2 linked regions of the Homo sapiens genome follow. The protein of the gene in region 1 purifies or fractionates together with the protein of each later gene. This does not show direct contact. Each region holds a gene or a part of one and is shown in the gene's direction. Other genes may lie near its edges.

Region 1 (3,818 bases):
CACTGTACAGATGAGAAACTGGAATCAGAGAGGTTCATGCAATTAGAGATTAGAGCAAGGAATTGAAATCAGGTTTGTTTAACTTCAGATCCTGTGCTCCTAAAATCTCTCTGCCCAACTATTCCCAACAGAATTATCCCCTTATTTCCTGTTACTGATTCTGTTTGCCCCTAGGCGGCAGAAGAAAACGACTTACCACACCATGGTGGACCTAAAAGACTTGAAAGGCTACAGCCGGATTGGGAAGCCCATCCTGTGTCCTGTTCACCCTGCAGAGGAACTGAGGCTGTTCTGTGAGTTCTGTGACCGGCCCGTGTGCCAGGATTGTGTGGTGGGGGAGCATCGGGAACACCCCTGTGACTTCACCAGCAATGTCATCCACAAGCATGGGGACTCTGTGTGGGAGCTCCTCAAAGGTACTCAGCCCCACGTGGAGGCCCTGGAGGAAGCCCTGGCTCAGATCCACATAATAAACAGTGCCCTCCAGAAGCGAGTGGAGGCAGTGGCAGCTGATGTCCGGACATTCTCGGAGGGCTACATTAAGGCCATTGAGGAGCATCGGGACAAGCTGCTGAAGCAGCTGGAAGACATACGGGCCCAGAAGGAAAATTCCCTGCAGCTGCAGAAGGCCCAGCTGGAACAGTTACTGGCAGACATGCGGACTGGAGTGGAGTTCACCGAGCACTTGCTGACCAGCGGCTCAGACTTGGAGATCCTCATCACCAAGAGGGTGGTGGTAGAACGGCTCAGGAAGCTGAACAAAGTTCAATATAGCACCCGTCCTGGAGTAAATGATAAGATACGCTTCTGTCCTCAGGAGAAAGCAGGCCAGTGCCGTGGCTATGAAATTTATGGTACGATTAATACCAAAGAGGTTGATCCAGCCAAATGTGTCCTACAAGGAGAAGGTAGGAAGGCATTTCCCATTGACATTGAGAGGGCAGTGGACAGGGAGGTGGTGTGTGAAGATTGGTGGCTTGTTCTGCTAGGAAGCATGCCCTACTGACCAGGTTACCAAAGGTGGGGAGATAAACTGATCTGAAAGACAGTGACCCCCACCTTTGCCCTTTCTGGTTTGTTCTGGCTAGGGTACAGTTAATACAGGAGTGAGGCTTGACCCTTTTCCAGTTCAGAGAAGTAATAATGGCTGAGAAACACACAGATCATGTTTTGTTTCTATCAGATGGCAGAACAGAGACAGTGCCCGTTGGAGGTAACAGCAGTGACTAGGGCCAGGTGAAATTCTGCCTGCTCAGAGAGGAGCATGGCAGGCCCTGGATTCCTAGATCAAGTTCTGAAGGGAGTTTCAGAGGAATGAGGAAGATGAGATTACGGTTTCCTTTCCTTTAGGCCCTTTTTGGTTCACATCAACTTTACTGGCATTTAAAAGGATATGGTAGGTGTTTCATTTAATTGGGGGAAAAAATGGTTTTTTTTAACGAGTGTTCCCTTTCTAATGGAAGCATATTATTAAAACATATGTTTCACAGGTCAGTAGGTCAGTCCTGATAGGAAGATTGCATCTTAATGACACAGGCATTCTTAACTGTTTGGAAGCCATAGATCTCTTTGAGAATGTTCTCTCCTACAGAAACACCCAGTAACTTGTGCATACAATTCCAGATTTTTAGACTCTTCATAAGCCTTTCCATAGACCTCATAGTAGTTCATGAACCTCAGGTTAAGAAACCCTGTTTCATCTGAATGCTGGAGTAGGGGCTGTAGCTACTGGATATCCCCCCAGTACCTTGGCATGAGCTACCAAGTTGCAGAGGATCTCAAAACATGGAGGGTCGTGAGGCTGGTCAGCTGTACTCCCTGCCTAGCCCAGCAGGATCTGGAGCTTAGGGAGGGTGGTTTTGGGGTTACTATCCTCTCTCACAGGGTCTAGAGGTTTTCTTTAAATACCTCGGTCAGTCGTGAGTATTTTTAAAGCATAGGACCTTCAGTCCTAGGACTGAAGGTAAGGTCCAGGATCCTGTGTGATCCAAAGCAGCTGCTAGCTGAGAGAACCAGGCCAACCAGGAAGGACTCCCAAGAGGCGTACTCTGGGAGGCAGAAGGGGAAGAGAAAACAAAGGGACCCAGGGTGGTTACAGTAAAGTACAACCCTTTGTTCTGAAGAGAAAAAGCAAGATGGAGATGTAGTCACTGCAGTTTACATTCGAGGTGAGGACCGAGTGTTTATCTTTTTCAGACCTCCACAGAGCCCGGGAGAAACAGACGGCCTCTTTCACCCTGCTTTGTAAGGATGCCGCAGGAGAAATCATGGGCAGGGGAGGAGACAACGTTCAAGTTGCCGTTGTCCCTAAAGATAAGAAAGACAGGTTTGTATGACACAATTAGGTGTCATGGATAACAGGCAGTGAGAAAACTGGAAACATGAGGTCCTTTAAGATATTGGAGCTGGGCACAGTGGCTCATGCCTGTAATCCCAGCACTTTGGGAAGTGGAGGCAGGAGGATCGCTTAAGCCCAAGAGTTCAAGACCAGCCTGGGCAACATAGGGACACCCTGTCTCTACAAAATTAAAAAAAAAAAAATTAGCCGGGAGTGGAGGCATATGCCTATAATCCCAGCTATTCAGGAGGCTGAGATGGGAGGATCCCTTGAGCCCAGGAGGTCGAGGTTGCAGTGAGCTGTGATTGTGCCAGTGCACTCCAGCCTGGGCAACAGAGCAAGACCCCAGGTCCAAAAAAAAAAAAAAGATATTGGAGTGTAACTCACTAGTTACGTCTTACCTCCCCATAATACTATGAAACGTTACGTGACCAAATGTGTTTTCTTGTGTGGGTTTTGTATTCAATTCTCTCTCAAAGCTATGGTCTGCCCCTCAGATTGTTTTCATCTCAAGCTTTAGAATAAGTTGAAAAATATTCTGTGTTAGACTGAATGGTACCCTTTTCAAAATTCAGTCTCCCTTTGGTACTAAATTATGCCTGGAGCATGTTTATATTTCTCTGGAATTGTAGAATGGAGGAGGGACAACAGAGCAAGAGGGTTCAACAGAAGCCTGTTGAAAAGGACACAATAATATATTCAAGGAATTTGTCTGAATATCAGACTAAATTGGAATTTATGCTGTTTACCTTCTGTTGTAAAATTAACTTCTGAAGCAAATGGAAGAAGCATCCTGTTTGGGTATATTTAACATTAATACTGAATGGGATGGTGTAGAGTTTACATTCTGAAATAGTAGCAACTGAAGCCAGCTTGTGGAAGTGAGTGGTGTTTTGACTCTTATCTCCATTCAGCCCAGTCAGAACAATGGTCCAGGATAACAAGGATGGGACATACTACATTTCCTACACCCCCAAGGAACCTGGCGTCTATACTGTGTGGGTCTGCATCAAAGAACAGCATGTGCAGGTAAGACTGGTGCACGTGCTTCCCTGAGCTCCCTGGATTCTACTGTCTTAGGATCTGGAGACATTTCACATAGGATCAGCTATACAGAGAGATTGAATAGAATCCCCATGTCTTCTTCTTCACTTTAGAAACAGCCCAGATTTTGCTACTCTTATTCTTCCTGGAGGATGCTGTTGACCATAAGAACCCTGTATCCCTGTGTCACCTCCAGGCAGTTATGCTTATAGCTTATCATTCTCCCAGTTGGTTTCTTAGGATTCTTAATATGGAGAAGATGTCTTGATCACAGGGGGTGATCTGCCAGCAGACAACCATGCATATTCAAAAAATATAATCTAGCTCAGGATTTTCCAGTTTTGTCCAGACTGTGTCTGGACATGAACACAGTTGAGAGGGTTATGCCCCCTCCTCACAATTGACTAGTCATCTATCTGCCTAACCATCTGCTCAT
Region 2 (3,818 bases), about 95 Mb from region 1:
TTAGTATTAAGATCCAGAAAAGGTCTTTGGGAGACTCCTAGTTTCTGATAAGCTATTTCTTATAGAAAATGCTTTATGCTTCCCTGCATGTATCTTCTTTGTATTTGCACATTTATCTGGATACATGCTTCTTTTTTTCTGTTTTGTTAGTTTTCCTGTTCTTTGGCAAACAGAGCTGTCCACTACATTTATCACAAGGCGATGTATAAACTGCTTATAAATGGAGCAGTGCCTTCCTGGGATTAGCTTTTTTTTTTTTTTTTTAGGTTGAAAACCATGGGGAAAATCTGCTGAGATTAACCCCACACCTTTGTCTCCTGGTATTCATTTAGATTCTGAGCATTCCCTCTGAGACAGCCAGCCCTGAAGCTTCCCTGAGAGCAGTGCTGAGCAGAGCCATGGAAAAATCAGTCCCGGCCATTGAAATATGCCACCTCCTGTGCAGTGTCCACAAATCTTTTCCAGGCCTGCAGCCTGTCATGCAGGAGTTGGCATACATTGGTAAGGAACGGGCCAGGTGGGAAGGGGGTTCCTATCAGCACACCAGGTTGTTTCTTGAAGAAAGAGACAGCATTTCATATCATAGTTTATCACAACCTTAAGTTACGTATTCATTTTATATGCTCTGAATACCTAAAAAAGTCATGAGACATAGGGGGAAAATGTTCTTTGTGTTTATTGGAAAGTAAGGAGGACAATGATATTACTTCAGAGTGTTTTTGAGGATCTCAAGTAGTCTCTAGTCTCCTGTAAGAAGTGTGTTAGAAACGTTATAAAGCAAAATAGAAACAGAGAGTTCGCAGAGCCACGAGATGTCTCTTTTATGCAGGTGTCCTTACTAAGGAAGATGGAGAGAAGGAAACGTGGAAGGTGAGTAATAAATTTCACCTTGAAGCCAACAACAAAGAAGATGAAAAGGCAGCCAAAGAAGACAGCCAGCCTGGGGAACAGAATGATCAAGGAGAGACTGGTTCCTTGCCAGGACAGCAAGAGAAAGAGGCTTCAGCCTCCCCAGACCCTGCCAAGAAGAGCTTCATCTGTAAGGCCTGCGACAAAAGCTTCCATTTCTACTGCCGCCTAAAGGTGCACATGAAGCGCTGCCGGGTGGCTAAGAGCAAACAGGTGCAGTGTAAGGAGTGCAGTGAGACCAAGGATTCAAAGAAAGAGCTGGACAAACATCAGCTGGAGGCCCATGGTGCAGGTGGAGAGCCCGATGCCCCCAAGAAGAAGAAGAAGAGGCTTCCAGTGACATGTGACCTCTGTGGCAGAGAATTTGCCCATGCCTCAGGTACGTTCAAGAAGGCAAAGGAACAGAGGATGATAATTGTGGGTTTTATAGCTTGGATTTCAGGCCTTTCCCTTAGTTGTGTGCAGTGAGGGCTGTGGGTGGGCTTAGAAAATAGAGCAGGTTCCTACAGAGGCAGGGTAATATTTTAAGAGCATGGGCTTTGGAATCAGCCCCCGAGCTTTGATTTCCCCAAATCTATTAAAGCAGCACCCTGATACCACTTACTCTGTTGCATTGTTATGAAGACTTAAGGTAACAGAGCTAAACACCAGTGCACTGCCTGTAACAGAGTGAGCACACAATAACTTACAGCTCTTACTGTTTACAGTGATAACCAGCTACTTAATACCTGGCTCATGTTTCCATGTGCCACTTGTTTCTTGGTAACAAACAAGAGTCATGGAAATCATGGGATGTACAGTCAGAATGGTTTCCCTTGTCCTAGAATTTGGATAAACCTAATGAAATATAAAAGCAAGTTGAGTTTCCCTAGTTCTGGGTGGCAGGGTCCTATTTAAGAGAGAGAAGGGAATGGGGAAGATAAGCCCAGCATTACTTTCCACCGGCTCCATCCAGGAGTAAGGCCAGGTGACTTTGGGGATGCCAGTTGGTGGGTAGAGAGCAGCGTGGCTGTGTGCAGTGGGTACCAGCGTGGCCTGGCACCCTGGGCTTCATGCTGTGCTTCCTCTGGAGGCCTGGGCTGAGACAGTGCTCTTGGTATCCTGTGCTAGATTCCTAACACTGATTAGTAGCATCTCTTCTGGCCTCTGGTGTGCTTGGCTTCCCTAGGCATGCAGTACCATAAGCTGACAGAGCACTTCGATGAGAAGCCTTTCTCCTGTGAAGAGTGTGGGGCGAAGTTTGCAGCCAATTCCACCCTGAAGAACCACCTTCGCCTTCACACCGGGGACCGCCCGTTCATGTGCAAGCACTGCCTCATGACCTTCACCCAGGCCTCCGCCCTGGCCTATCACACCAAGAAGAAGCACTCAGAAGGTAAGGCGGGGCACAGTTCATTTCTCCTGCAGACTTTCACTGCGAACTGCCTAAACCCCATTTGGATTAGGTGTGATATATATCTCAAAAACAAAACAATTTGATAGCACAACAGGGTGACTAAAGTCAATAATAACTTAATTGTACATTTTAAATACAGTGTAATTTGGATTATTTATTACACAGAGGATAAATGCTGGAGGGGATGGATCTCTCATTCTCCCTGATGCAGTTATTTCATATTGCATGCCTGCAGCACAACATCACATGTACCTTGTGAATATATACACCTACTGTGTACCCACAAAAGTTAAGTATCAAAAAAAAAATAAGGCTGAGGCAGGCGGATCACAAGGTCAGGAGATTGAGACCATCCTGGCTAACATGGTGAAACCCCATCTGTACTAAAAAATACAAAAAATTAGCCAGGCGTGGTGGCGGGCACCTGGAGTCTCAGCTACTCGGGAGGCTGAGGCAGGAGAATGGTGTGAACCTGGGAGGTGGAACTTGCAGTGAGCTGAGATTGTGCCACTGCACTCCAGCCTGGGCAACAGAGTGAGACTCCGTCTCAAAAATAATAATAATAATAAATAAAATTAAAAAACAATGCACAACCTCTAGGCAAACAGACGACTGGGAATAGCTCTGTGCACAGACGTAAACTGCTTACTGGGAGAGCTTCTGAAAGAGACTGGCTAACCTCCTATGACTTTATATTAGGTCTTGTGGAAAAGTCATTGTGGTTTTTGCCATTAAAAGTTATAGAGAATTTACATAAAATTATTTGAGCTTTGAAGTCGAGTTCAAGCATGAGAAGGACCCTGACTAAGCACCTACCGTGGATCAGACAGTGGCAGATGCCGAGTGGCTGAGCTGGGATTCCTGTGTGCCCATAGCTTGTGGCCTGAAGGGGGCAGGGAGAGGGGAGTGTAGCGCCCGTTACAATGCAGATTGTCAGCGGTATAATGTGGAATAACACCAGCGTGATGAGGAAGGATGGAGAAGGGGTCTCTAGTCCAGTTGGAGGGGAGGAGGAGGTACATTGTCAGGGAAGGCTTTTTGGAGCAGCCTACCTATTGTTTAGAGCATTTCTTTATAAATTATAAGGTAACCATTGTTTGACGTGGACTGTCACAGTAGCCTCAAAGCTGGTCTTGCTTTCACCATTTCTCTTGATACTTAAAAAATAAATAAACCCTATCAGGTCACTTCTCTGCTCCAAATTCTTCAATGGCTTTTTGTCCCACTCAGTTGTGAAATCCAGAGTCCTTAAGATAGCCTCCTCAGCCCTCTGTGATTAAGGTTCCTGATTCCTCTCTGACTTCATCTCTTAGGCCTGCACATTTTAGCTTTCTGGCCAGGCCTCAGGCCCGCAGGCACCTGCTCCAGGACCTTTATTCTTACCCTTCCCTTTGCTGGGGACGCTTCCCATCAGACATCTCACGTTTCACTTCCTCACCTCCTTTGAGACCTTACTCACACTTACCTTCTCTGTGAGTCCCTTCCTGGGCCACCCTCTGTAAGGTCTCAGCAC

What was found.
Region 2: the proteins of TRIM45 (region 1) and ZBTB40 purify together in Homo sapiens (affinity purification with mass spectrometry; one large-scale study listed by BioGRID and IntAct). This does not show direct contact.

Annotation. Positions count from the first base shown.
Region 1 is NC_000001.11:117,115,124-117,118,941, reverse strand, and holds part of TRIM45 (E3 ubiquitin-protein ligase TRIM45), read left to right. Parts: intron 1-174; coding exon 175-908; intron 909-2,196; coding exon 2,197-2,326; intron 2,327-3,252; coding exon 3,253-3,367; intron 3,368-3,818. UniProt on the Homo sapiens protein: E3 ubiquitin-protein ligase that plays a role in the regulation of inflammatory response.
Region 2 is NC_000001.11:22,510,847-22,514,664, forward strand, and holds part of ZBTB40 (zinc finger and BTB domain-containing protein 40), read left to right. Parts: intron 1-332; coding exon 333-501; intron 502-829; coding exon 830-1,288; intron 1,289-2,077; coding exon 2,078-2,284; intron 2,285-3,818. UniProt on the Homo sapiens protein: May be involved in transcriptional regulation.